Linked DNA regions of Homo sapiens: all the other regions are linked to region 3. Evidence: fine-mapped expression QTL. A gene starts in region 3. Each other region holds a variant in brackets. All regions are shown on one strand. Distances are between the middles of the regions. Region 1 overlaps RPS6KA2 (ribosomal protein S6 kinase A2). Region 2 has its middle 41 kb from the start of RPS6KA2-AS1. Region 3 holds the start of RPS6KA2 (ribosomal protein S6 kinase A2). Region 4 has its middle 55 kb from the start of RPS6KA2.

The links. PIP is the estimated chance that this variant, and not a neighbour inherited with it, causes the effect.
Region 1: its variant is fine-mapped to the expression of RPS6KA2 in whole blood (TOPMed, PIP 0.96).
Region 2: its variant is fine-mapped to the expression of RPS6KA2 in whole blood (TOPMed, PIP above 0.99). The same link has a PIP of 0.9 or more in T cells and follicular helper T cells.
Region 4: its variant is fine-mapped to the expression of RPS6KA2 in whole blood (GTEx, PIP above 0.99).

Annotation. Positions count from the first base shown.
Region 1 is chr6:166,538,724-166,546,867 of GRCh38, reverse strand. It overlaps RPS6KA2 (ribosomal protein S6 kinase A2), which reads left to right. Exons shown (of 21, transcript NM_021135.6): 2 at 8,084-8,144. Among named protein-coding and RNA genes, the nearest start is that of MIR1913, 33 kb to the right of the region's middle. RefSeq lists enhancers at 2,670-3,590, 3,938-4,538, 4,709-4,928, 5,519-5,638. The variant T/C (reference allele first, on the strand shown) is at 4,772.
Region 2 is chr6:166,858,709-166,866,852 of GRCh38, reverse strand. It overlaps a transcript of RPS6KA2 not described here. Among named protein-coding and RNA genes, the nearest start is that of RPS6KA2-AS1, 41 kb to the left of the region's middle. RefSeq lists a silencer at 3,711-4,020. The variant T/C (reference allele first, on the strand shown) is at 4,300.
Region 3 is chr6:166,624,680-166,629,679 of GRCh38, reverse strand. It overlaps RPS6KA2 (ribosomal protein S6 kinase A2), which reads left to right and starts at 2,429. Exons shown (of 21, transcript NM_021135.6): 1 at 2,429-2,759. The coding sequence starts at 2,661. RefSeq lists silencers at 1,670-1,729, 1,980-2,149, 2,210-2,559.
Region 4 is chr6:166,678,683-166,686,548 of GRCh38, reverse strand. It overlaps a transcript of RPS6KA2 not described here. Among named protein-coding and RNA genes, the nearest start is that of RPS6KA2, 55 kb to the right of the region's middle. The variant C/T (reference allele first, on the strand shown) is at 5,307.

The DNA of each region.
Region 1 (8,144 bases), 84 kb after region 3:
TCCTAGTTGACTCAGCATTTTTTATTCTTCTTAATGGAAACATCGCAGCCATCAACTTATTCTGGTAGAGGTATTGACCAAACATTCACCAATATGTTGCTTTTGAAAAAGAATGAGGAGATCACATTGGACACATCGATAATTGAGTCTGGGAGAAGATGATAGTTGTAGAATTTCTATTTTCCCTTTTCTGCTAAAGAAATAGGAAATTTATCCCAATAGGTCTCACTGGGATATGACTGTAGTTTTCTTGGTTATACTGATGATGTAGTTTATGATGATGTAGGTTTTTCCACTTGTGATTTTAAATCCCGTGTTATCAGTTTTCTCTCATCTCTTAGTGCAGTTTCATACTATATATCTCAGAGACAAAAAAAAAAAAAAAGTTTTCCCAGTCAGGGTGACACACTAGCATAAATAATGTCCCATTGGGTGCACACCAGGCATGCGTCCTGGTATCACTGTCACCGGGTTTTTACCTGGCGTTATTTTAAAGTTGTGCTAAATAATACAGATGTATTCAGCCCCTTTGGGCACTCATCCCACTGCCCAGACCGGAAATGGTCCCATCTAAAGCTGTTCCACGAGGAAACACTGTGGCTTGACCTAATCTGCATTCGTGTTCCACCTGCCCCGAGTGTGAGGCTTCTCGGAGATCGTTCCTGTGCATCTTAATACACTCATGTCAGTCAGTAGCTACCGTCTCATTCCCCGATGCTAGTAATGAGTCTTTATAAAGCAAATCATTGAAGATAATTTTCAAGATGAAGTGGAAGGGGTCACGGAGCCATACCTAAAACACCGTGTCAGACACCAACACCCCAGGCTTCCGTGAGGACTTCACACTGACGTTTCCCAGGGAGGTTAAGGATTGGAGGATTTATCAGAATGAGCACACCGACAGAATGGCCGATGTCAGGACTGGGAGCCCATGTGTGTGCAGGAAGCCCTGGCTCTCCACTCTTTGCACGTCTTTTCTGTGGGAAGGAGGCCCCTGCAAAAGTGGCGGCGCTCCATCTGTCAGTCACCGTTTATAAGCACAACTTTCAGAGTCCAATTTGCCTTGACTGTGATTTATAAAAATACCAGCAGACTGAGGGCTGAGAAGAAGGGAAGAGAAAATAATCCACGGGAACAACAGGCAATGAAGGCGAAGGCAGAAACAGTGGCGAAGTGGCAGGGCTTAATTAAAACCAGAGAGGAAACATCCTTGGGAGGTTCCTCTCTCCTCAGTCACTAAAATGAACAGGGACGGGGTGGGGAGGCAGAAAGGCAAGTTTGGATAGAAAGAGAAAAAAAAGGAGAGAAATGCCAAGGCTGGTTTTGCTGCTTCTCCTCCTTTCTTCCCATAGTCTCTGTCCACTCAGTGCTGCTGTGTTCTAGGAACCTTACATTAGCCCAGCCTCAGTTCCGAGGAGCTTCAGTGAGTAGCTTAACGGAGACTTCTCCCCAAAGAGGAAAGGAGCCCGAGCAGCCAGCCCACTCCTAGATTGTCACTGTGCATGCGGTGACTGCAGTGACCACTCTTGGAAGCTAAATCACTTTCATTGGTCAGAAAAAGAAAAAGTGATATTCTAGGATGGATGAGAAAACAGAGCCCAGCCCTGTTCCTGCACATTGCTTTCCCTCCGCGGATTCTGCGGCATCCATTTGAGCATTGTATCGAATAGATGCAGTTCAAACTCTGAAAATGACCAGGGTTGAAATGGAGACCTTGTCTCGCTGAGCAGCCCTCTATCAAGTAGATAGGCTCACACTCCTGAAATTTCAGAGCTTCTATCTGCGATCTTGACATGGCACCCGGTATTTTCCTTTCTCTTTCCTTCTCCTGCTTCCCTTCCTCCTATGATTTTGTAGCAGATTTATTCATCTTAAATTAAGCCATCTTTGTTTCACCTAGATTCCAGCAAGCGCCCATGTCACCAGCCTGATTTCCATTCTTGAGGGTACTCGTTCTGCTGTACTAAATGGCTCACTTATATTTAGCTTTTTAGAAATGGAAGGGAAACTTGTTGTAGAAATGGTTTCCTAAGGAATTGATTGGACAAATGCAGCTGGTCCCATCATTTCATTTCACATTTGCTCACACCAGCAAAAGCAGACACATTTGCGGAGATGCAGAAAGGGCAGTTTAAAGGGCAGAGAAGGCCCCAGAGTTCGCGAGCCGTTACCACTCTAAACGTCCTAGGCCCTGGTTGGAATGGAAGCAGCTTTGCCAGGAGCATGGGTCCTGGGCCTCAGATGATCTGAATTCTCGTCCCTTGAATAGTAAGATGCCCAACCTGCTACATGGGAGGTTCCTTCTGGTTCTTAAGAGTCTTTGGTTCAAATGTCTAGTTATTTTTATTTCGTTTTAGTAATTACAAAAACGGCCTACTGGAGGATTTTTGTCATGGGTGGCATGTGTTCACTGGTGCAGCCAGCTTTCCTGGTAACCAAAGGCCGAGGACCCACGAGCTATCAGGAGTCGTGCCGCAGATGGAGCTCGCTCTCCGGGGGCTGTTCCTGCACAGACTCCCCTCTACTCTTCTCAGCAAGTCTGCGGCTGTCTTTCTTTTCCGGAAGAGGCTAAAAAGCCATTTAGTGAATCTTCTCTCCCTTTAAAAGCATTCCTGAGCTTCCATTCTAGCGGCGTGGTAGACTACATGTGGCTAGCCCTCATGTGAAATACAACCGAAAGTCCTGGATCAAGTATCCCTTTAAGAATGTTTAAAAGTGTGAGTGAGCTGGGGAGTAAGGAATACGCAGAGGCCAAACCCTGTGTTAGAGCAGGGAACCCAAGGAAGGAGACAGTTAAAGCCAGCTTTCTCCTGGAGGCCAGGTGACAACCTGGTGAATTTGAGCTTGGCTGTTTACAGCCTCACAGGGCAGGGGAACTGGTGACAAATCCCAGGGCTGGCCCCAGGCAGACCTCTTGCCCCACTTCCTGCATAAAGCTGGGACTTTAAGGAGCTCCATCCCAATGTGAGAAAAAGCCAGAACAAGACCTGTCTCACACACACTCACGTATGTGCATTCCACATGTACACATGCGCACACACACGTGCACACACTCAGGACAGTTGCCTGTGATGGATGGGCCTCTAGAACTGGACCTCTGGGAGCAGCCCCTGCTGGAGATTGAGATTTGAGAGTTGTCAGTGTTTATTCACATGGTTTATAAAGCCCGGAGACAGGACGAGGTTCCAAGGGGGTAACTACATGGAGACAAAAGGCCAGGGACTGTGCCCAGGGGAAAGGTGACCTTGGCAGACACAGAAAGAGGGGGAGGTGGGAGCGAACCCAGGGGAGTAGGATGTACTGGAATCCAGGTGAAGAGAGTGTTTCAAGTGAGAGGGAGTGAATAGCCATGCCCAGTGCTATGGAGGATGGAAATTTAGCCACTCGATTTAGCAATGGGTAAGATTTGGATGGCTTGAGAAGGGCACCTTTGGTGAGATAATGAAAGTCAGATTCTAGACGAAGCCAAGTTTAGAGATTCCAGACCAAGAAGGCCTTGCCCAGGGCCTGGAATCTGCATTTTAACAAGTTCCTTGGGGTGATTCTGAAGCAGGTGGGCAACATAGAACATTCATACGTTCAGAACCTCCAGGACACGATACTGTTCCTGGGCAGGTGTGTCCGGGTTCTGTGCCTTGAGAGAATGACTTGCGATGTGGTACTCTGTCATTAAGCGTTTATATGATGCCAGCCTCTTTGTCACCTGGGATTCAGGAGGGACTCCACCAAAGCTGCCCTCAAAGCCAGGCTCTTGTCCACCTGCTCATGAGTTCATGCCGTCAGCAGCAGAACAGTGCTGGCTTGATGGGACCTGTGAGTTGGAGATACGTTCTTTTCCACATTTTCATAAACCACCTGTGTAATAATATATTCTGTTATTATTCTGGAAATTAATATCCTACATGTGAATCTGCGATTTATAGAATGACCTCTCTCCTTTTTTGGAAATGAGGTGAACCCTTGCCTATTTTGTTTCCTATGTCCTTATCATTAATATTCCACAACTTTTAATTTGCACTTTTTATAAATATTATCCCTTTAATGACATGAAGAGCAGGTGATTCAGAGCAGAGGAAATGACCTAAGAAGGCGACTTTGGCCCAGAGAGAGGCATGCAGAGCCAGTGGCCAACCGCCCTCATCTTTCTCCCTGTCACTCCCACTTCCCAGCCGCTCCCAGCAGCTGCTGAAATACCTGCCCGGGACTTCCTGCAGTCATTGGAATTTTGAGTGCAGTTCTGCAGGAATTTTAAAAATTCCTTGTCACAATTTGTCACATTCAAACATCATTTAAACAGTTTATACCTCTAGTTTTTCTTTCTTACGTTACAAAATGTTTGGAATTGTTGCTTATGGAGCTAGCACCTGATCACCGTCCCAGCTCCTCCTCCCAAAGCTCTCAAGTTAGCTTTAAAAATACTGTTTACAGTAGCTGTGCTGGAAACCACATGCTCCTGCCATGGATGCAGCCGATTCAGGAACAGACTTGATCTTCCTAAGGCATTGCATGCAAATCCTCATCAAGCTCTAGATAAAATTACCTGCTTCATAAAACAGAAAAGGCACATATTTCAAAATGAAATGTGAGTAACATTTTCATGCTAGTTGCCCCTTAGGGTGGTTGTCATGAAGGGATCCAGAAACCAGGGCTGTCCAGAGAGGGTCGTTATCAGCAGTGCCCGGGAGTATGGTGCTGGGGCTTCATCTGGCTGTTTCCTATTCACACAGACCCCAGAGTGCGCGCCGAGTCCATGGAACACCAGATCTTTGTT[T/C]GTTTTGTTTTGTTTTCGTTTTGGGGAAAGTGAAAAAGAAAGTTAAGCATCCTCCAGCAAGTTCAAGCTAAAATGTCACTGTGAAGGCAGAACTCTGAAGTCTGAAAGGTGATGCTCTTGGGGATTTTTTTCCATTGACGCCTCAGATGCTTTGCGGTTAAAAACCTTACTGATTTGAAATGAGAAGTGAACTCTATCGCAATATTATTAGGGAAGAAAGCTGGCGTTTTTCATGTCATTTTAGGAGATGAAATTATGTGTGTACTTCAGGTACATTTGCTCTCAATACTTTGACAGAAAGAATCTGCACAAAATTTGAAATGTTATGAGATATCTGCGTCGAAGGCTTTGATTCGAAACGTTACAGAAATGACTAAAGAAGGTGAACTTCTGCAACGGAGGTGGGGGTGTGGCATGGACCGGGGAGGCGGGAGGCAACAGGGGATGGCAATTTGGAAGTGCTGAGGAAGGCGTGAAGCCAGCCTAAAAAACGGGCTGACTGGGAGCAGGGGAACACCCATGGGAATTCTGAGGTGCCAGCGTCCATGGCCAGGTGGCATCCAAGTAGCCCGGATGCTGTCACTCTCGCTTCAGAGCCTAGTCCCACAAAGGCATGTCCCACAAAGGCAGTGAAGGGGACCAGGACCCATGGGACTGCATGAGCTCATTCACCACAGCTGTGGGTCTCAGACCCTCCACAAAGAGCTGCTGAAGAAAAAGGAAGGAACTGGAAATCTTTAGGAAACATACACAAGGGCTGGGAAACGTGCCCCAGGAAAGGGTGGTGGCTGCAGTGTGAAGCCTCCCTGGCCAGCTCGTGCCTCGCCTGCCCCACACCTCTGGGCGGTGTTGAATTTTACTTTCTGTTCTGCAGTGTGGCCGTTGCCATGCTCTCGTTACCAAAATGAAGTCACAGAAGGGTGTGCTTTGGTGGTGATTCCTTTTTTCATAGTGTGGGCGTCGCATTAACACAGCTGCATGATGGGAGCTATTTTGGGAGGGAGGCTGGGGTTTGGATGACTCATGCGCGTGCTAGTCCTGTAGGTAGAGGATGTTAATGGACCCATTGCGAGGACAGTGTTTTAGTAACAGAAGAGGAGTATTTTGTTGTTCTTTAAATGACAAATCGTCTGCAATTTCTTTCTTCCTTTCGTAGGTCAATGACGGGAAAAGATAGCATACATGTTTCCATGATGAATTTTTTTGAACTTGGGCTCCTGCCTTTGTTTTTTGTGCAGGAAGCCACCTCCAGCAGCCGCGTGGAAGGTAGTGGTTCTCACAGGCAGTGACACACGTGGATCCCTGAGGGCCTCATTTTTTTCTGTCCCTTTCCATAAACCAGGAGATTTCACCACAAAAGCTGCACAGTCTCGGGTGGCTAGCATGGTCCTGCAATTCTAGTAAGCCTGTGCTGTGAAGGGAGGAAGGGCTTAAAATGTGATGTCCCCTCACAAATTAGCATCTAAATATAATGCCCATTGGCTGGGCTGTGCCTCTAGCATTTTTACTTACTCATTCAAGAAGTAATTATGAAGCAACAAAATTGTAATTCTGTATCTTCCAACTGCACTCATATGAACTTCAGGATGGATTAAACAGAGTCAATTTTGGCTATACTCATTGTTTTCCCAAACAAACAAAAAAAAACCACTGTTTTTACAAAAATAGCAAATCATCCTTGAAGATATGGAGACGAAAGTGTTTCCTTTAACTGAGAATGGAAAAGCCATGGATAACTGCATAGGCCTCTAATCCGCTGTGAGTTTCCACGGCTCAGACACCTTATCTGCTTTTACATGTGCCTCTATTTGTGACATGGAGGTAAAATAGCAAGATTTATAAGTAACCGTTTTGAGAAACTGAATTTTTCAAACATCGTCATGTACGTTATTGCTATTGTGATTTCATTTGGAAGTCTTCACTCTTAGAGTAAAACAGAGGGTGGAAGTACTTGGCTTCGAAGTCAGTCCTTGATGAGAAGCCCACCTCTATCACTTCCAGCTATTAATGTGTAATCTGAGTCTCAGGAGAAAATCTCCACTTCACAGTTTCTTCATGAAAAGAAGCAATGAGGAATGAGAGGCCCCTGGTTCCCAGAGCACACTATGCATACAATTCCTGGTTGCTGTTTTTGGATGCGCATTTTAGCCAGCAGTTTCTGAAGTTTTTCAGCCCCTCACCCCGAGCTAAAACTGTAGAAAGGGGTGTACGAATGTATAGATAGTGGAACAGAAATCTCAGAGAAATGCAGAGATAAATTCAAGGAACAGTTGGGCTCGAATGTCTCATGTTGGGAGAAACACCTCCTTTCCAGTGTTCCATTTCCAGGGCCTGGCACTTGGGCAGATGGCCTACCCCTTTACAAGGGAAGTCATGTGACTCTGGGGACAGGAAGCTCTGGGATGAAAATTTGTAGTGTTTTCTGTCAGTGTTTTCACTTATAGACTCTTTCTCCTACAGGGAAATCTTGCTTTCTGGGCTGGTGGCAAATCTTACCTGACTGCTTCTTCTGAAATATAATCTATAGGATGGCAATGACGTGTTCTTTACATTAGCTTTGACAAACATACCAGGGATAGCGTGAATCAGAAGGAGAAGGAGGACAAGCCGTCTGCATTTTCCAGACCACTTCTCCATCTAGGAACCCGTCAATATGCTTTTGCTGTCATTTTGTTCCATAGTTGCTATATTCATCGTACCAGAACTTCTGCCCAGACTGTTAAAGAGCAGAATGGATTTCATTGAGAGTACCCTTAGATTTTTCGGAGGCCTTGGTAAGACCAAATGACAAAAGTCCATGGAGAAAAGAAACCATGAAGGCCCACAGGGTGCACACAATAACCACACACATCACCAAGTTGATTCCATAAAACTAAATGGGCCGGGCGGGGTGGCTCACGCCTGTAACCCCAGCACTTTGGGAGGCCGAGGCAGGTGGATCGCGAGGTCAGGAGATCGAGACCATCCTGGCCAACATGGTGAAATCTCGTCTCTATTAAAAATACAAAAATACAAAAATTAGGTGGGCATGGTGGCAGGAGGCTGAGGCAAGAGAATCACTTGAACCTGGGAGGTGGAGGTTGCAGTGAGCCGAGATCCAGCCACTGCACTCCAGCCTGGGAGACAGAGTGAGACTCCGTCTTAAGAAAAAAAAAAGAAAAAAACACAACTAAATGGTGTCTCCACTTTCAAACTCCAGCGCTAAAATCTGTAACAGACCCAGCTCGTGGTAAACTCAGGGGAGGAGGAAGCTGTGAGCGGCTCTGAGGGACTCCTCGCGGTGTGTTTCTCACCCGTGCCGCTCTCTTGCAGGAAGAAGGCGTCGTGAAGGAGATAGACATCAGCCATCATGTGAAGGAGGGCTTTGAGAAGG
Region 2 (8,144 bases), 240 kb before region 3:
TCCAGCATGACCTCACCTTAACCAGCTACTTCTGCAGGGACCCTGCTTCCATGGAAGGTCACATTTGGAGGTAGTGGGAGTTAGGGCCTCCACACAGGAATCTGGGAGGTAGAGGGACATGGCCCAGCCCGTGACAATGGGTCACATGCATTTTTGTTAAAATTTAAATAAATTTGGTTTTAAGTTTTTTGGAGAATTTTGTGAAACTCCGGAGAGTGAAAATACCAAAGCTGGTGACCATGTCACTGGAAATTAGTAACTGTTGTTTTTTTTTGAGACAGAGTCTTGCTCTGTCACCCAGGCTGGATAGCAGTGGCACAATGGCACAATCATGGCTCACTGCAGCCTCAAACCATCCTCCCATCTCAGCCTCCCGAGTAGTTGGGACTACAGGCATGTGCCACCATGCCTGGCTATTTTAAAAAAATTTTATTCTTAGTAGGGACAGGGTCTCACTGTGTTGCCAAGGCTGGTTTCAAACTCCTGGGCTTAAGTGATCCTACTGCCTCGGCCTTCCAAAGTGCTGAGATTACAGGTGTGAGCCACTGCATCTGGACACTGTTTTCATTTTTACTAAATCTTTCATCCATCTCAAAATGTACAATATTGCAAAACGGAACAGCCCAGAATAAAACATTTGGGTCTTTTAAAAATGTCCGTCGGATTCAGTGTGGAGGTCAAGCACGTCTGTCCATCAGAAAACTTGGATTTCTTTGGGCCTTTTCTCTCAGATCACGAAACACATTTCGTTGCTGTGTATTCTGTGAGTCAGGCCGTGGCAGCCCCCTCTGTGGGGAAACTGAGCTACAGAAGATAGCTATTAGTAGCAGAAGTGGGACCAGGACCAGATTCCTGATTCAGCTTTTCTTTGGTTGTCAGAAATCCGTGGAATGGATAAGCTCTCTCCATCCCTCCTTCCCTCCCCTTCTCCATCCGTCTTTCCTTCCTAAGAGAAAAGAGACACTTTAAGATTGAAGAGGCAATGAACACAGAGGAGTGCTCTTCCTTCGTTGGAGCAAGAGAGTAATTTTCACTTGGGGCTGGGTCTCAGTGAGTTTCATGCCAGCTCATCCATCTCATCTCACAATGGCTGTGACTTGGGACACTTAAAATACTTCCCATTGCTTTTCTTTTGCAGAGTTTGGTTCATTAAGGACCCATTTTCAGCAAGGCTGCTTCAACAGTTCTTCTTAGAAATTGATGCTTTGGAGGTGAATATCTCAGAAATAGCTTTTTCAGGTGGTGTTCTGTTGAAAGTGTTGTTCAGGCCGGGCCGAATGACTCAAGCCTGTAATCCCAGCACTCTGGGAGGCCGAAGCCGGCAGATTGCCTGAGTTCAAGAGTTTGAGACCAGCCGGGGCAACATGGCAAAACCCTGTCTCTACAGAAAACACACGCACACACAAAAATGAGTGGTGTGGTGGTATGCGCCTGTGGTCCTAGCTACTTGGGAGGCTAGGGTGGATCTCTTGAGCCCAGGAAGTCGAGAAGGCAGTAAGCTGAGATCGTGCCACTACACTACAGTCTGGGTGACAAAGTGACACCCTGTCTCAAAAAAAAGAAAGAAAGAAAAAGATTGTTCAAGTTTTCTTGGGATTTATTTGAACATTTTAATTCCAACGCATCTAATTTCCTGGGTTCTTTATTTGAATCTTTATCTTCGTAGGTATTTAAATGTAATCATTATTTCCTTTCAGAAAAATTATTCCTTCTTACCTCTAATTGTTTACCTTTCCCAACACAAACTTTATAAGTGGGGCTGTTTTCCCAGATCAATATCACCTTTTGAAGATTTCAGTTTGTTGCATTTTATTTTGTTTTATTTTCTGGCTGTTTCCAGGTCCCCTTCCCCAGTGTCTGGCACACCTGGTACTGCATCTTGGTGGGCAGCAGCCCTGGGAGTGCCTTGCATGTAAAAAGCTGATGGAAAGGAACCCATCCGGGAGGTTTCTGCTTTGGGAGGACCCCGTAGGTGTTTTACAAGGCAGCAGTGCAGGGAGTAAGTGTGGGAATTCCAGCCCAGAGCCCTGGCCACATGAACTCTCGTCTCACTCCCTGGTGATCGCTTCATCTCTCCAGGCTCTCTGCTTGCCTGTGAGATGCCCAAATAATGTGCAGTCTGTTGATTAGTGTCATATTTGCATAGTTAAAAAAAACACCATGCTAAATTATGAGCCACATTTTCAGCAATTCCTAAGATACCCCTTAAAATGAGCTCTTTTTTGCTAGGGACTCTGGCAGGCTGTTCACCCATGGCCTCCCAGGAGCTGGGCTTCCCTCAAGTTTCCTAGGACACACTGCCAATCACAAGACAGCCCGTCCAAAGGACTTTTCCTCCCTCATATAAAGGACCTCTATTTCCTTCTTCCACAACAGAGCACTTGTGGAAACTTCCAGAAGCTGGAGTCTTTGTAAATACACAGTAAAGAATCTGAGTTCATTTCTTTCCCATTGCCTTCAGGAGTCCACATTTTTACCATCAGATTAAAGATTCTTGACATCTCTTCACTGTCTTTTATGAGTGACTCTCCTAGCTTTTTTACAGAAAAACCAAAAACCATTTTTTTTTTTTTGAGACAGAGTCTCGCGCTGTTGCCCAGGCTGGAGTGCAGTGGCGTGATCTCCGCTCACTGCAACTTCCGCCCCCTGGGTTAAAGCAATTCCCCTGCCTCAGCGTCCCTAGTAGCTGGGGTTACAGGCATGCGATACCACGCCCGGCTAAGTTTGTATTTTTAGTAGAGACGGGGTTTCACCGTGTTGGCCAGGCTGGTCTCGAACTCCCGCCTCAGGTGATCCGCCCGCCTTGGCCTCCCAAAGTGCTGGGATTACAGGCATGAGCCACCACCCTGGCTTTGTCTGTTTTTAATCTGTGACCTTTTACAGCATGTACAAAATCACCTTATGATTGTTAACACAAGAAAACCTTCACTCTGCTCTGTCAATCACAGAATCTCCAATTTGAAAACGAACAATATTGCTATTTTTAAAATTCTGAATGCAATTGATTTTAAAGGTCCTTCTGGCCTAATTTTGTAGAAAGATAAAGTGACTGTCATAAATCAACACCAAGTACAGAACCCCTCTGTTAACTTTGGACTCTACTTTGCTATGAGATACAAAGTATCTGGGATTTGGGTTTTTCTTTTTTTCCAGTGAATTGAATTTCTTAGTGATTGCATAAAGTCGAAAAAGAAAAAGGGATTGATAATTTTGGAGAACATTAAGCTATTTTTAAAAAGATATTTCTCTCAAAGATAAAGGAATTTGCTATAGAAATGAATACACTTACTCCCAAAGCAGCATTAAATTGTGTTAACTTTAACACCCTTTCCTAAAAGAGGGAACCATAATGCTTCAGGATTAGCACTTGGACGATTGGAGAAATGAATATGTCTTTCACCCGCACGCACCTTTCATTATCCAGGACAGAAGGGAGTAAGGAGGGAGGCAAGAGAGATCCCCCCACTCCACAACCCAAAAAAGGGAAACAGGGAGGGGAATTTTCCCCTGGTTCCTTTCCAAGGAGCGGTGGCCCAGGAGGCCTTGCTCTCCCGCAGGCGCCTGGCTGTGTCTTCGGGGGTTCCTTCTCTGAGCCTCAGGACTTTGTCACCTGTGAAATAGGACGGGGTGGAGACCTGAAGGAGCTGAGGGGCAGGATACACGTTGTTTGAATTAATGTTTCTGTCCCTCGGGCCCTGCCACTGGGAGCCCCAGCGGCCCACGTGCCTTTCATCCTGGCCCGCAGAGGCCTGAGTGCTGTTTCGGGCAGCTCCGGGCAGGGCTGGGTAGGGCCCAGCGGACCCCACGGGCCGCCCCCCCCCGCCTCTCCCCAGCTATTTGTCTGTCGTCCCTCTTCGTCCCTCTTCTCCTGAGGTGCTGTCCCGGCCCTCGGGGCGGGGGCAGCCGCGGGCAGCTCAGTCCGCAGCGCTTCCAGAGGTGCCCGAGTCTCCTGAACGCTCCGCAGGAAAGCAGCTGTGCTGCGTGGAGCCCTCCCCTCGTCCCGGTCCCTCCGTCCGTGTTCCTGTCCCTCCCGTTCTGCGGCGGGAGGTGGCGGTGTGGGTCTCCGGGGAGGCGCGGCGGGCTGGGGAGGTGGGGAAGGGTGTGCGCGTGCTGGGGGTGGGGGGGAAAGACCTGCCGCCCCCCCCCCCCGCCTCCCCAGCCCTTGGTTGCTATGCAGTTTCTATGGCAGCGGCATCCTCAGACTCAACTTTCACCCTCGTTTAGAGCCAATTAAGGTAAAATAGTGAGGGGAGGAGGGAAGAGCGTGGCCAGGGAAGGGAGGGGGGAGAGGCAGGAAAT[T/C]CAATTCGAAGCTGCAAGTGCAGCGTTTACTCTGCCAAAGTCGCAGTACAGATTCCGAAGCCGCAGCGCCGTCCCCTCCTTTCCTCGCCCCAGCCCGAGCGGGAAGCGGCAGCAGCTCCCCAGAGCCCTGGCTTGGCAGGGAGGGGACGGCGCCCGAGCAGCCATATTGCAGCCCCCCGGGTCCCTCCTCCGGCCGGCGCAGGCCCCGCGCTCACGACCTCCTCTGGGAGCCGGATCTGTCCTCTCCATCGCCGCCACCCGCCGGCCTCTGCGTCCCTTGGCTTCCGACATCCCGTCTGGCCGTCCCCCTGTGCCGGTCCGAGCCTCTGTTTATTTCCTTTCCTACTATCAATACTCGACCAGCAGAAAAGGAAAGTTTAAAAATGCCAATCGCACAGTTGCTGGAACTATGGAAAAAGATCGAGGTGGAGCCTATGGAAATAGAGGTGAGTGCAGGAGAGAACGCACTTTTCACAGCATCCTCAAGAATCCGAACTCTGCAGCCAATGCATTGCTCATTTACTATAATCAGTTCATGTCCATTAGGTGACTATGATGGGTCAGAGAGTTGGCTATCCAGTGTGTGTGGATGTATATGTTGCGTTGTGTATGCACATGGATAAACATTGCGTGTGTATACACGCACGGCATTGTGTGTGGTGTAAATACATAAATGATAATGAGTACAAGAAACAAATTGTTGCCCTTAAGGAAACTTCAGGATGCTTCTTAAAGTCTATGTAAGTCTTAAAGTATTCCCGTTTCCAAACTAATCTGCATCAGTTTGATTTTCCTTCAACAAGTGGCTTTAAATTAGAAGCCTTCCATTTGCTACAGTGAAAGATGAAACCAGAAGGCAAAAATCAATGATGAATCAAGGAACAGAGAGCATAAAGATAATGTGATCTTAAACGAAAAAAGATAATGCAACCTTAAAAGGATGAATGGTCAGATAAAGAGGTGTGATTAAAGATAAACAGAAAAGATAATGAAATCAAAGTGTTCCTTGCCCGTCCCAGGGCTGGTGGGTGTGCAGGAATCACTGCTGAGAGTTTTTCACTCCATGCTTCCCTGGGGACACGCAAACCTCTGCTCCACGGAATCTGATTTGCTCCATTTGAATTGGAGATGGTCAACATACATTTTCCTAGAAGAGAAAGTTCCCCAAATTTATTAACGTCTACTAAATTATTAGATATACCTGTTCTGTGTTTATAGCAACTCAAATGGCATTTAAACATGGCTCATTTGTAATCACTCACCAAACCTCCTCAAAGTCCAATTTAATTTTTGCCTATCTCCTACTCCCAGCACTGTACTTATAAATTCAATGCTATTTTAAATTTTATTTATTCTTATATGTACGTCTTGAGATAGTCACATAACATACCTTTGAACTGAATGAGAGATTCTGTTTTAGAAGAGAATTTACTGAATGCTTCATATTGAATAGTTTTCTTGGAAAGCCAAGCTAAATAATGCTCGACATATGTATTGATGTTTAGCAGAGACTGTTGGGCATAGCACGGACATTGAAGTCCATTTGTTTTAGATGGAACAGCCCAGATACTGCTGCTCATGGAAAGTACCTGGGGTGGGAGAAGGATGACACCAGGGCTCCCTACTGTTACTGATTCTTCTGTTTGTACATGGGGTTGTTCTTGGTGTTGAGGATGGTGCCTTGGAAAGATCCATTCCCTTACTGCGGTTGCCATTTCAAGTCTACTTTTTTTGAGAGAGAGAGAGATTCAATTTTTCTAAATATTGAATTAGTGAACGAGCAAGTGATCAGCTAGAAGTTCTTTTCTCATTTACTAGTGCTTCCTATAGCCCAGCTGGTCATCGTCAGCACATTGGCTTGTGCTGAAGCTGTAAGGTGCTCAGCCCTCACGAATGAAGGGCTTGTCCAGAGGGAGGATTCCGCCCTGGGCTCAGAAAGGATGGGAGAGAGGGGGCCAGGGGCTTTACAATTCCAGGTGGGACCCTGGTCTTTACATTATTTCCAGTGACCAAAGCCATGAGGAGCAGCTTGTGTTTCACATATTTCTCAAATCGCTCATAAATGGATCAGCAATGAATAGATTCCCATGATTTGAAAACCATGCCATGAGCCTAGAAAGCACTTGCAAGTGGCAAGAATTTGGAGCCGAGTTGACTGATGGTCTGCCCTGCCTTGCCAGCCCCAGGAGAGGGCAGATGGTAAAGGTTTTGAGGAAAATTGGATACATTAAATAGCTCTTGAAGCAAAATAAATTTTTTTCAGGCTTCTTAGCTGAATTTTTTCAGGAGAGCACAGCTGGTGGAGTATGGACAGTGTTAAATTCCTATTTACTTGGAACCCAGAAAACCAGAGTTCTTTCTATAGAAAAATGAAAGCTTAAATATTAACCATGAGGTACTTCAAGTTTCTGAGGAAATTTCCAAATCCACAAAATCCTCTGTGTTTTGGAATTCACAGTCTGAATTTCCTCTCTAGTTTTGTCCATGTTTTATGTTGCATGGTATTAAAATAACTCACATATCAAGAAATGTGGCAGAGCTATATGGAGCATATCTGGCCTCTGAACTCCAAGTTAAATGCCCTAAAACCCTTGCAGGAGGAGCCTGCATGCTTTTCTCATCGGAAAATCTGCTAAGAGATTTTAGTGCTTATTTTTTAGTGATTTAGTTTAGATTTTATTGCTTTAGTTCCTTGCTGTTATGCAAATGTGACAGGACTGATGATTGGATTTCCAGGGACTAGAATCAGCATTCCTGGATTCATGTTTTGCTCTAACCACCTTTTCAAGCTGCTATCCTTTCTGGCCTGTTTTCTCATCTGTAGTCTGAGAGAACCGAACTGAACTGGGTCTGAGGTCCATTGTACTAGAGAACACTAAATACAGTTTATAAAAATTGTAGACCAGGGGAGATTCATCTGACTGTCCAGGGAAAGTCTTTGTGGTTCTCTGTGTTGTTCTGAGATATTTCAGATATATAATTAACCCATAAATGGGTGTGTTGACAAGGCAACGTGCTCATTAAGAGCCAGAACCTCCAGAAAACCCCGGCAGAATCTAGCATGAAAAAGAAACATGTAGTATTTCATGAATTATGTTCTGGCAAGTTGAAGGCACATCTCAAACACAGGACTTTTCAATCATTGCTTTCAGCGGGGTTACAGCAGCCAAGGGCGTGCTTTGGGGGCAAGATAAGAAAATGGGAGAAATGATGAGTAAGGCAAGTCCATAAGCCAGCCCACAAGGTCTGGCTGACCCATTTTATTTGTGTTCTCTTGGAGGAATAAGCATGATTTTTCTCTCTGGGATGTCATAATACATTAGATAGAGAAAGAGAAAGCTCCGTTTTTAAACAATGCAGATCAAACATGATTCCCTGAAGATTCATAGTCAAGCTTGGATAGAGATGATTATCTCCTGGCTACTAGGTGAGAAGATGAAACTAGAAATAGTAATAATGACAGCAGTTCACTTTGCGTGTCTGCTGCATGGCAGCTGGTGCTGATGGCTGGCTGGTGTTCTTCCGTGGAGCTCTCCCGTGTCTGCTGCATGGCAGCCGGTGCTGATGGCTGGCTGGTGTTCTTCCGTGGAGCTCTCCCGTGTCTGCTGCATGGCAGCCGGTGCTGATGGCTGGCTGGTGTTCTTCCGTGGAGCTCTCCCCACATCTCTAGGCAGAAGCACTGCCATGTCTCCGAGGCCCAGGTTAAGCAGGTGGCTCCAAGTTGTTAAGTAGAAACCAAAGACTCAGACCCAGATGGTTCCACTTAAACCTTGTGCCAACCACAGAAACACTTGCTTTACGTTTTATGGGCTGGGCCTCATTTCTCTGCTAGAATCCATTCTCCC
Region 3 (5,000 bases):
TATCAAGTTCACTTTCTTTTCTGGTATTTGGTAAGGATAATTTGGATTTCGGTTACAGTGGGTCTTGATATTATACCTACCCTAGATTTAGTGGTTTTGGAGGATTTCATTACATAATCACATGAAGTAGTGTTCCATGATCACTAGAGATTTTGGTATACGTGTATTTTACCAGGAGAAAAACAAAGGCAAACAGATTTATTGTTCTAGCAATGAATTCCAGTGAAATCTGAATGATTTTCCCTCCCAAGTTCAACAGAACAGTTTTGTTGCCTTCAAATTTGGGGAACTAATGAATGTCCCATGAAATATTTCCTTTCCAATTTTGTCAGATCAGGTCAAAATACTATTGTTGGTACAACACAAGCCTTGACTTAGGCCTGCCTGCCTTGGGGCTTTTGTCCTGAACAGGATGCCCATGAGTTGGTATAGGTGGCATTCAGCACTCCTGTCTCCGGCCAGTATTACTGGCTCCCCTTCCGAGGGAAGCATGGTCGGGTTGGTCCTCCCTCATTCCCGGAGTCTGTGTCCAGTTGGAGGTCCATCTACCTCTTCCCGTGCTGGGTACAGAGTGTCTTTGTGTTTGCCTAGAGCCAGGATGCCTGAGGGTCCCAGCAGGGATACAGGGCACTAAGAGGCTGGTTCTGAGAGCACAGATTACTACCCTCCCAGCAGAACCTTAAAGGAAGCAGGCAAAGCAGTTTTCATGGGCACTTAACTGGCACACCATCTTGAAAAGGAGCAAAAAGTGGTGTTTGGTGTCCTTGTGGGGTCCTGCACTTCTGTTTTTAAAGAATAGTCATTATAGATCCTTTAATACATAATATGAAAATCAATTGCACTATTTAAATTCACAAAGCACTCCCACATCCGTGATCTTGCATAAGCCTCTTGGTATCCAGTAAGGGAGGTGAGACAGGTTTCACTCGTATTTTCCTCTTAGAGATGAGTCGTGGGAACAACGTGCAACGGCACCCAAGTTCACCAAGCAAGGAAGGGGCAGCGCCAGAGTCGTGGTGCTAAACTCCCGGCTTCCACTCCGGAGCAGCACCGCTCAACGCGGGTCTCCAGGAAACCCAGAGAGCCTATCTGACCTCACCTCAGCCCGGATGCAGCATGACTTTAAAGCTCTTATTTAAGGACATTCTGACCTCTCTACCCACCTTAGCCAAAATAGACTACACAAGTATTAACGCAACATCTGACTAGTCCAGGGAGCAAAACAACGCGAGGATTTTGCAGTTCGCACTGCAAAAGAGCAAGCAAGACTTGTCAACTCACCACCGCACTCGTTTCTGCTCTTTGCAGGTGGTGATGGTGCTATGTCAATGGGCTCGGTTTCTCCCTGTTTTTAAATACAAACTCAACACGTGCACAAGAGGAAAACAGAGCAGGCTGCACGGGGTCGTGAGCCCGCATTCTCGGCCCTGCTGCAGCCCTTGGTGAGCATTTCTAGGAAAAAAAAGAAAAAAGTGTTTCCCTTTAAGGCGGATCCCGAGCGGCGCTGCCGCCAGCAGCGGGTCTGAGGGCCTTGCCCTAGACCCAGGTCACCCCGCCCGGGTATTCCCAGCGCGGGCCCTGATAAGCCATCTGTGTAGACGTTTCCTAGAGCGGGACCGGCTGCGGAGGGCGGATGCGTCTTTGTTCTGCAGCCGCGGGAGGGAGGCGCCCCGAGGGCTGCCTGAGCCCCCGCCCTCGGGCGCCTTTGTCCGCTCCGGCGGAGGGAAGGCGCCGGTTCCGCGGAGGGCGGCTCCTGGCCGAGCTGCAGGGCCCGCTGGCAGGCGGCGGTCCCTCGCTCGCTGTGCCGCTGAGGTTTTGGCTGCGTTTGCTGATCAACAATTAAAGTTTGGTTCGGCAGAGAAAAACATGATGACAAAGTGTGCATAGGGATGTTTTAAGGAAGGAAAACATAATGACGGCCCCAAGCTGGAAGAAAGAGCAGCCGGGCCGAAGTTGCGTGACAGGAACGCCCGCGACTGCGCGGCTCCGGAGCAGCTGCACAACTCGCCCGGGCCGGGAGCTGTCCCGGGCCGAGGCTCATTAGGTATGCGGCGGCTGCGGGCACTGATTGGCGGGCAGTGCTGTGGGCGGGGCCGTGGGCGGAACCGCGTGGGGGCGGGGCTGCACGGAGCTGGTTCTTGTAGGAAGGAGTAGAAAGAGGAGGAGGGATGGGCACCTGGAACCACAGGGCGGCGCTGATGATTGGAGGTATCGGCAGAGGCGGGGCTCTCCCGGGCGGGGCGGTGGGCTCTCATTGGCAGTGCTGGTGGTGGGTGGGAACGGGAGGGGTGGTGAGCGCTGATTGGCCGTAGTGGCGGGGCGGGGCGGAGGAGGAGGAGGTGTGCGTGCCGGGGCGCGGAGCGGCGGGCGCTGATTGGTGGTAGTGGTGGTGGGCGTGGTGTAGGCGTGGCGCGTGGCCGGCGCTGGTACTCGCAGGGGAGGCGGAGAAGGAGGCGGAGGGAGCGATTGTGGCCCCGGCCGCGGTGGCCGGCGCGGCCTGCCCTTTGTGACCGCAGCTCGCGCCCCACGCCCCGCGCCCATGGCCGCCGTGCCGGGCTCCCTGGCCACGCGTGCCCGCCCGCGGACCTGAGCCCCGCGCCTGGGATGCCGGGGATGCGCGTCCCCCGGCCCTGCGGCTGCTCCGGGCTGGGCGCGGGGCGATGGACCTGAGCATGAAGAAGTTCGCCGTGCGCAGGTTCTTCTCTGTGTACCTGCGCAGGAAGTCGCGCTCCAAGAGCTCCAGCCTGAGCCGGCTCGAGGTAATGCGGCCGCCCTCGGGGCGCGCAGGTGCCGGGCACTGAGCGGGCCGTGGTCGCCCGAGCCCGCCTCGCCACCCCTGGGTGGACCCCGAGACCCGTCAGGGAGTTCAAGTTACTGGAAAGCTGGTCCGGTTCCGAAAATCGAACCAAACGGCTCCAAACGTTATCGCTGGGACTCCGTAGTAATTGGGCGGTCCGTGGGTCCTCGCGGGGGCAACTCCACCCCCACTGCATTTCCAGCTGGTTTCTCCGCCGCTGGCTGCACGGGGTGTGGGATGGTCCCCTGTGGGCCACAGGGAGCCCCGGGTGAGGAGGGGCTTTCTCTGCAGCTAGACCGCCGAGTGGCGCGGAGCGCTCCGCGGGGGTCCCTCAAAGTCCCGAGTGGAGAAGCCCCCCAGCTCCGCCCTCCGAGGCGCTGATCAGGTGCTGTCTGCCGTGCCCGGCCGGCAGGTTCCACCTTATCTTGTAGCTCATTCGTGCACTTGAAGTCAGTGTAGAATTCACAGAACGGGGAAGAACAGGCAGCAGCACAATCTGCTTAGGCGTCTAAAACGGCGTTCAGGAGTAAAGAGCCTGATGCAATATCCTCGCAGCGCCGAGGCTGATACAGATTCGTCCTGAAAACCCAGAGTACTCCCAAAGCCCTGTCCTTTCTACCTGTCCCGCATCTTGGCATCTTAGAGTTTCCTTGTGGACGGTTCTCTCGTGGTGTGTTTTATTTCAACCATCAAATCTTATTCTCTTATTCCCAGTGTCCAAATCACATTGTTGAATCTATAGATGACAAAACAGTGAAACGTGTTTAAGTGAAAAAGACATGGTGATGGGGAGACTGAGGCTGGGACCCAAAGATTTCGCCTGACACTGTCCCGCCTTTGCCTCAAGGCTGGCACCTGTGGGGTTTTGGTTGGTTTGTTTCAGCTGGAACAATCTCAAATGTTTCATCTTGGTTTTCTTTGTCCCAGCTGCCATGATATTAGACACAGACATGGGTTCTGTAACCATTGAGAGACCTGAGGAATAGACAAAAAAGTAGAAGAGAATTACTTGTTTAAAAAGTTTCTCTTATGGCATCCCTAAATCAGAATTGGAAGTACTAGATAGGATCAGTATGGCCGGTTCCCGAGGGTAAAACACATCTTTCAAACAAAACTGTTAATCCAGTACTGGAGGAGGGCTTGCTTTTAAGTCTAATATTGAAAGAAATGAAGCACACCAGTGAGGCAAATCATTTTCCTGGGACACAGGCACTTAAAAAATCTGAAGTTGACAAGATCAGAAACTCAGAACAGTATTTATCTTTATCCGGATACATGTCTTTGTTTCCTGTTTCATCTCAATGCCAAGTTTATTAGACAACTCCTTGTCTCCTTCCATTTACTGTCTTTGCCAAGAAGAGGTACACGTGTGAGCACACTCCAGGCATTGTTTATGAAGAGCAGCACTAGACACTGGCTGACCAGTGGGAGTTCAGGAATCTGCCTGATTCTGGATACACACGCCTCTGGTGTCACAGGGTTCTGCAAGGAGGGCTGGGCTGCAGGCGTGCCTCCGGAAAGAATACAGTGGGAAACAAGCGGGGGGGGGGGTGGGGGGGTGGTGGGAATAGGAAACGAGGTTTCTTCCATGTAGAAATAAAATTTCTAGAAGTCATACATAAACCATCAGCGATGTAGGAGGTCAAATGGGCTGAAAATACATGTAGTCTAAGAGCAAGTAGTCAATTAGTGCTTCCTGTGTGCCAGATCCCGTACTAGGTGCTGGAGGTCTCACTAAGATGGTCAATAATGGCCGGGCGCAGTGGCTCATGCCTGTAATGCCAGCCCTTTGGGAGCCTAAGGCGGGCGGATTATGAGGTCAGGAGATCGAGACCATTCTGGCCAACATGGAGAAACCCCATCTCTACTAAATATACAAAAATTAGCTGGGCATGGTGGCGCGTGCCTGTAATCCCAGCTGCTCAGGAGGCTGAGGCAGGAGAATCGCTTGAACCAGGGAGTCAGAGGTTGCAGTGAGCCGAGATTGCGCCACTGCACTCCAGCCTGGCGAGAGAGCGAGACTTGTCTCAAAAAAAAAAAGGTCAATGCTAATACAATGCTCTCTTTTTTACAAATGCATTCCCCAGCTTTCTATTATTTGATACTTGTGAAAATCGGGGTAGCATATGTAACTTTCCTCATTCTATTGCTAAGGGGAAGAAACCCTGAGAGTTTGAGAGTCTTGTTAAAAGCTTTCCAAGGA
Region 4 (7,866 bases), 55 kb before region 3:
ATGGGCTGGGGCCTGTCAGCAGAAGCCACATGGCCTTGGGTGCAGAGCATGTGTGCTGGCTCCAGAGTATCTGGGAGGTGCTGGTTTGGCATCAGAGGTTTCAGAAGTTCACACCAACCTGCTTGGATTTCAGGGCTTGTTCTGGGTCATTTCACCTCCCTGCATACAAAAAAGCAGAAAAGTTGCTCAGGAGCCCACCAGGTGACATGGAGATAACCCTGGGCCAGAGGGTCCCACAGTAGGAGAGGTCGGGTTGCTTTGCACGGTCTCCACACATCCTTGTTCCCAGTGACAAATCCTCATGCCTGGTGCCCGATATGCACCCTGACTCCTGTTCCTGGCGGCAGGACTCAGCAGGACCGACCTTACATGAGCATAGGATGGCCCTTAGGTCAATGCTGTCCTGATCTCTTCCCATCTCTGTGGGGTAGAACTGGTGTCACTGCCAAATAAGATTCTCGATCCTTCCGTAGGTGTCTGGAAAGGCACCTGGCTTATCCCAGTCATTCGTTCTCATTAGCCCTAAGACCTGAGGCTGTGAATGTAAAGACCTCACAGCTCCTTCGTCTCAGCCCCTTCGTTCGCCCTCTGTCCCCCTCCCTCCTAGGGCATGGGCCCATCGTCCATCACCATGGTGCATTGTCTGCGGGATCACTCGATGGTAGGAGTTAAAAGCAGTGATGTAGATACCATGGAGATAGAGGCACAGACCCAGCTTAGCCGGGGAGCAAGGCAGCAAGGAGGTGGTAGGAGATGTGGTGGGAGAAAGGGCACCAAGTACCTGGCTGTGTGAACCCAGCTTGAACCTCAGTCCTACAAGGCTCTTTGCCATAAGAAACGTGATGCCCATAGAATTGTCGTGAGGGTGAAGAGTGGTGGTGCACGGGGAGGAATTCTTTCAAAAGCTGGGATGCAGTGGGAGCTCAGGAAGAGTCTATGGATTTGAATCCAAGATCTTCCCTAATCCTAGGGAATGAAACTGTACTCCAACAACTCTCAAAGATGCATGGCTATGAATCCATCAGTTCACCTCCATGAAACTAGGGCAGAAAGAAAGTCAGAGGTCTGGGATCCTTGGACTCTTGTCCCGAGTGTCTGAGGGAGGACAAGTGGGATGGACAGTGATAGAAATGGCCAACAGATCATTTTAACCATTGCCCTTCTCAGCCTCTGTCCTCCCAGCCTGCACACACACCCCACACTCCATCAGGGTCCTGCCTGAGCTTTCCTCGGCCTCTGTCCTTCCAGCCTGCACACACACCCCACACTCCATCAGGGTCCTGCCTGAGCTTTCCTCGGCCTCTGTCCTCCCAGCCTGCATACACACTCCACACTCCATCAGGGTCCTGCCTGAGCTTTCCTCGGCCTCTGTCCCCGCAGCCTGCACACCCACCCATACTCCATCAGGGTCATGTCTGAGCTTCCTTGTAGTGCTGAGCTCCGCCCACTGGATGGGGACTTCGAGGTTGGGGTGCTTCCATGGAAGCCGGTTGGCCCTTGCAGGGCTCTGGAGCTACCATCCCGCAGTGACATCTCCCTCTTCCTGCAAGGGCCTCCCTGCAGTGTGGCTCCCAGTACCACGCTCTCTCAAGTAAGGATAGCCTCTTTTAGCTCCTCCTCTGGCACAATGTTTCTTGTTGCTTTTCAGATTTGTAAGACATTCTCTTATTATAAATTGGAAAGAAGGAGAAAGGGCATTTAATTATTAAAAAGTAGGTTCAGAATTTTTCTTAGAAAACAAATCAAGTTGTTCAGGGGGAAGGGTGATAAATGTTCAAGTTGGGAGGTAAAAGCGATGTAGGCTGGAGGTGAGGCTTTCGGGGATGGAGCTGCACTGTGGATACATCCAACGGCATCTGCCGGATTCCTGGGGCCTCTGGGGCAGAGCAGAGGAGGGCAGAGAGCAGGGTGAAGGCTTGAGGATGACTGCACCCGGTGAGACCCCACCTTTGGTCTCTGGTCTTCCTGGTGATGCAGGACAGGTGAGCCTCAAATTGGGGCTTAGCCTTCAAAGGGTCTTGGCTTCACCCAGGAGAGAATTCAAGAGCAAGCAGACGGTAGGGTGGAAGAAAACAGCTGTGTTGAAGCAGCAGTGTTACAGCTCTGTGACTGCTCCTGCAGAGCAGAGTTACCTGCTAGGCAGAAAGTAGCAGCTCAGGGCAGGCCTGCAGTCATATTTATACGCACTTTAAATTACATGTAGATTAAGGGGCAGTTTATGCAGAAATTTCTAGGAAAAGGGCAGTAACTTTTGGGTTGTGGGGTCATTGCTATGAAAAGGGGCGGTAATGCCTGGGGGTTGCCATGGCAATAGTAAACAGACATGGCACACTGATGGGTACATCCCCTGACCTCCGTCCCTGTGTTAGCAGGGTCTCAGTTTGGTCCAGTATCTGAACCCTGCCTCCAGAGTCAAGTCCCGTCTCCTACCTCACTGGGGAGGTTGGGCCCTGTTTTCTGATCTCTGTCCCCAGCTACATCTAGATGACAACACCTCCTTATAGACTCCTCCAGTTATCTTGGGTTCCTACAAGAGCGTGTCTGGGATAGGGTCCAAGATGAACTCCTGCACGGTAGCCCCTTGCTGCTGCCTGGTGAGCTCTGGGTCCTGAGAAGGGAAGGGGAGGTGCCGTGGCTGTTGTAGGCCTGCCTGGGGGCTGGAACCTTAGGGACCACAGCTGCCGAACACCCCAAGGACCTCTCGCTAGCTGCTCTCTCCTGTATCTCCAGGCTGTCCCAGCCTCACCCACCATGTGGTCGGACGAGATTCAGCTACCAGCGTATCAGCGGTGGAGTGAGGCCCTGGATGCGAAAAGCTCCAGATGTGTTTCCCTTCTGTGTTCTCAGTCTGATGTGCTCTGACATATTTGCGCCTACCTAGTTATCCAGAGACATTGATTTCCTTGGCGGGGAAGCACGTTGGGAAAAGGAACATTTACTGATTAATGGAAGGAAATATTTGAGTCACACATTGTCCTTAGATGAATCATTGATTTATTCCCAGTAAAATCTGACTTATTTAAATGGCCACACAAGTAACTAATAAAGTAATTTAAAATCATAATTTAAACTAATGAGATACTTTAAAAACATATTTCTAGGTCTCTAGAGTGGAAGGAATGTGGTCTGTAGATTATAATTGATCATGGGGAGCAAACACTTTGCTTCCTGTTTACTCACTGCTTGCTTGGAAATACATTGGTACATTTCTGGCTCTTGCCAAAATGTAACTCTGAGTTAGGAGAGCATCACTTCATGTAATTGATAAAGTTAAAACTTTGTGCACTTTTGGACATCTGCAATATGCAATACTCTCCAACACAGAGGCACACGTAGGTATGAGTTGTCGTGGAAATGCATGTGTTTCCATGGTTAAGGGCTTGCCCCTGCCCTGTAGAAAGAGTCATGTTGCATGTTGTGACCCCTGAGCAGCGCTTGGATCTTCTCCCACAGAAGCACAGCTGCCAGCTGTGGTCTCAGGCTGGGCTTCACCGAGGGCAAGCGGCGAGACCCATCTGACGTCCATCAGCTGGTAGGCCTTCCCCTAGTTTCTCGTTGCATTTCTTCATTCATGCCTTCACTTACCTACTTCATTCATGCCTTCAACTCATTGGTTTGGGTCTAAGGAATGTGGTTATAAAGCTGGAACCCACATGATCACCTGGCCTTTGAGAAGAAACAGAGAAGGGGAAAAAGGGCTTAGGATGTGGTCAAATGCATGGGTTGTCTCTTTACTGAGGTAGGTGGTGGTCATAGGGCGCTCTGAGGACAGGCAGTAGGGCTGTTATTTTGCTGGGTGTGGGGAGACAGGTTCCATTTCATGGTTTCCGATGAATGAGCTTGTCCCGGCTATGAAGCAATCCTTGCTTTCTTTGTGTCGTTGTTGCTAGTGTTTATCTCCACACTCCCACCCAGTTTTCTTCTTGGGATTCCACTTATTCGACAGCTAATTATGGAGTCCCTCCTCCCTCTCACTCTGTTCTAGACCCTGGAGTTCAGCAGTAAACCTGACATGTTGGCCCTGCCCTCGGAGCTTGCTCCCTGCCCCTGCCTTTCCCCAGGGCTGTCTCACCCTCTCTATGCTTCCCCTGTGCTGCCCACACCGGACCCCACCTGTGGGCATTCTAGGCTCCGATGAAGTAGGGAAAAGACACTCCCCATGGCTCTGGATTTATGATGTAAGCCAAACGTGGATACTGAGCCAGACACGGAGCAGTGACTTTCCATTTTCCTACGACACCTCAATACCAATGTTTTATTAAATTGAAAGGACTAAAAACAACTAAGTGACGCATGAGTCTTTATTTTTAATTGAGCTTTTATGTTCCTCAATTCATTAATGAAGAAGAAAAGGAGAAAGCTGGTACATTTTATTGCCTGTAATTTTCAAGCGGAAGTTTATTCTGAAACATATTTCAACATCACATTCCTTGGGTAAATTGCCTGTAGCTTAAACATAACAGCAGCATCTCAAAACCCTCAGAACTCTACTTACGAATGAACCAGATTTTACTATTAATACATTGGTTAGGCCAGTTTTCTTTGTATATTCTTGCTGGGCATCAGAAGACTTAAACCTAAGCTGTCTGTCATCTCTGCGGGAGAACAGTGCGGTGGTGGGTGGTGTCGAGACTCACAGAAGGAGCCGATCAAGGGATCTCGGCAGGAGCTGCTGGTGGACAAGGCATTCCCAGCAGAGGACAGGAAAAGTTGGTGGCATTAACATTCTAGGCACCTGCTGCAGGTGTCAGGCCCCAGCCCTGGGCCACAAGGGTCAAACAAGGGTCAAGACAGGACTTTTCATCTCTGGGAGACAGGCCACCAAGAGCAAGATCTTGGGCGGGGGCGGGGGGGGGGGCGGGCAGGGGGAGATCCAGGGAGAGGCCTGGTCCTGTGAGCTGGAATCACAAAAGGAAGGAACTGGGACACGGGAATCACCAGGAACAGTTTTCCCTTCGGGGCACAGAATCCTGGTGCAACTTGCAGGGAGAGAGCTCAGCCTTCCTGGGGCCACCGATCAGCACTGGTCACACTGGTCAGCCGTGGCTGCAGGTGTCAGAGAGGAATTAGGGGTAGGAGATGCCGTGTGGAGGGTGCAGATAAGAAACTTGGACCTTATGTCAAGACGGAATCTAGAAGAAGGGCGTGGTTTCCAGTGGAGCAATGAGTTGGTTTATAATTTTGCATCCTAGGCCATTGGCTATGCCTCGTATTTTTCTTGGGAAATAAGCATCATTTGTATCAGGAAATGGTACAAGTCCATTGTGCAACCCACTTCTTTTTGTCGTGGGGTATGGCATCTATTT[C/T]TTAAGCTCAGAAAATTTCTAAGATACAGTGTTGTAACCTGCAGTTTTGGTACATCCTTCCTTGCATTTTCTAAACGCAGTGGGGTGGACACGTTGTGGCTAGATCTGTGCTCTGGCGCTGCCTCTCTGCCCTTTCCACCTTCTCCAATTTTCCCTGCTTTCTGTGCTTCACTAGGGAACAAAGCCTGATTCAGAGCAGAAGGGGTGAGAAGATATGGGAGAGACAAGCGGCTGCTGTTAAAAAAGAGCAGTCCTCACTCGATACGCCAAACAGGTCCCTCACAGGCCTTTCCAGAGTCAAAAATGGGAGGAGAGGGGCAGCAAGGCTGAAACTTTTCCGATTCTGCATCTGACTGAAGTTTGAACTGTGCCTCTGGCCTCAGCAAGTCTCCTTTTGTGTCCAGAATTGGTGGGTTCTCGGTCTCCCTGACTTCAAGAATGAAGCCACAGACCCTAGTGATGAGTGTTACAGTTCTTAAAGATGGTATGTCTGGAGCTTGTTCCTTCAGATGTTCAGATATGTCCAGAATTTTTTCCTTCTGGTGGGTTCATGGTCTCGCTGACTTTAGGAATGAAGCTGCAAACCTTCACAGTGAGTGTTACAGTTCATAAGGTTGGCACGTCCAGAGTTGTTCGTCCCTCCTGGCGGGCTCGTGCTGTCACTGGCTTCAGGAGTGAAGCTGCAAACCTTCGTGGAGATGTTACAGTTCACAAAAGCGGCACAGACCCAAAAAGTGGGCACCAGCAAGATTTACTACAAAGAGCAAAAAAACAAACCTTCCACAACGTGGAAGGGGACCAGAGCAGGTAGGTCTCCTGGCTGGGGCGGCCTGCTTTTATTCCCTTATCTGGCCCCACCCACATCCTGCTGATTGGTCCATTTTACAGAGAGCTGATTGGTCCATTTTACAGAGCTGATTGGTCCGTTTTACAGAGAGCTGATTGGTCAGTTTTGACAGAGTGCTGATTGGTGTGTTTACGAACCTTTAGCTAGACACAGAGTGCTGATTGGTGTGTTTACAATCCTTTAGTTAGACACAAAAGTTCTCCAAGTCCCCACCAGATTAGCTAGACACAGAGTGCTGATTGGTGCGTTTACATACCTTTAGCTAAACAAGTGCTGATTGGCACGTTTACAAACCGTTAGCTAGACACAGAGTGCTGATTGGTGCGTTTACAAACCTTTAGCTAGACACAGAGTGCTGACTGGTGGGTTTACAATCCTTTAGCTAGACAGAAAAATTCTCCAAGTCCCCACCCATCCCAGAAGCCCAGCTGGCTTCACCTCTCACTGGCACTGCCGAGGGACTTTGCGGCACCTAGTCCAGGTACTCCTGCAGCCCAGAGGGAGCTCGTCCCCCATCAAGCCCAGCAGGCGCTGGCCAACCGCGCTGAGTGCGGGGCTTGCCGAGCCGCGCTCACCTGGAACCCGCGCCAGCCAGTGAGCACCACTCGCAACCCCAGCTCCCGCCCGCGCCGCTCCCTCCACACCTCCCCACCAGCAGAGAGAGCCGGCTCCGGCCTCGGCCAGCCCCAGAGATGGGCCCCCACAGCACAGCAGCGGGCTGAAGGGCTCCTCGAGCGCGGCCAGATCGAGGAGCGCCGCCAGGTTGAGGAGGTGCCGAGAGCGAGCCAGGGCTGCTAGCACGTTGTTACCTCTCACTTTCACGTTCAAGCTCTTTTTGGCTATGTCCTACACATTATCCTTCATCTCATGTTTTCTAGATTTGCACTGGCAAAAATAAGTGACAATATTTATTTATTATTATTATTATTATTGAGATGGAGTCTCACTCTGTTGCCCAGGCTGGAGTGCAGTGGTGTGATCTCAGCTCACTGAAACCTCCACCTCCCAGGTTCAAGTGATTCTTCTGCCTCAGCCTCCTGAATAGCTGTGATTACAGGCACCCGCCACCATGCCTGGCTAATTTTTGTATTTTTTTTTTTTTTAAAGAGAGTTGGGGTTTTGCCATCTTGGCCAGGCTGGTCTCGAACTCCTGACCTCAGGTGATCCACCCGCCTCAGTCTCCCAAAGTGCTGGGATTATAGGCATGAGCCACCACGCCCGGTGACAATATTTATTATTTTTTTGTTGTGACTTAAAAAGCAACATCTCCTACTGAATAGCCTTTCTGTTCACAGTTTCTTTCTCCAAACTTACTATTTAGTTCTGTTAGTGCTGGTAATTGGTCAACCAGGTTTTGTAACGTGAACTAAATCCTATAGAATTAATATTACTTGTAAACAAATACGGTTTTATCTACTAATGACCATGATCAAAAAAAGTCATACTCAAATTTATCTGGGGAACAGATATCTAAATACACACTATTTCTAGAGTTTTTAAATCCTTTTGCCAAATTTTAGAAATTCATCTGTGGTCAAAAAATACCTGCTTTGCGGTTGAGAGCCCAGCCCCATGAAGCACAGGGGGCTCAAGGCGCAGCAGAAATGCGGGGGATCGAGACTTCAGAGGCCACGTTTTGAGCCCCCTTTCTTTGTCGCTTGCCAGCCATGGTTGGACAAAGGTCACCACCTGGCCTTTCTCACCCCACCTTGC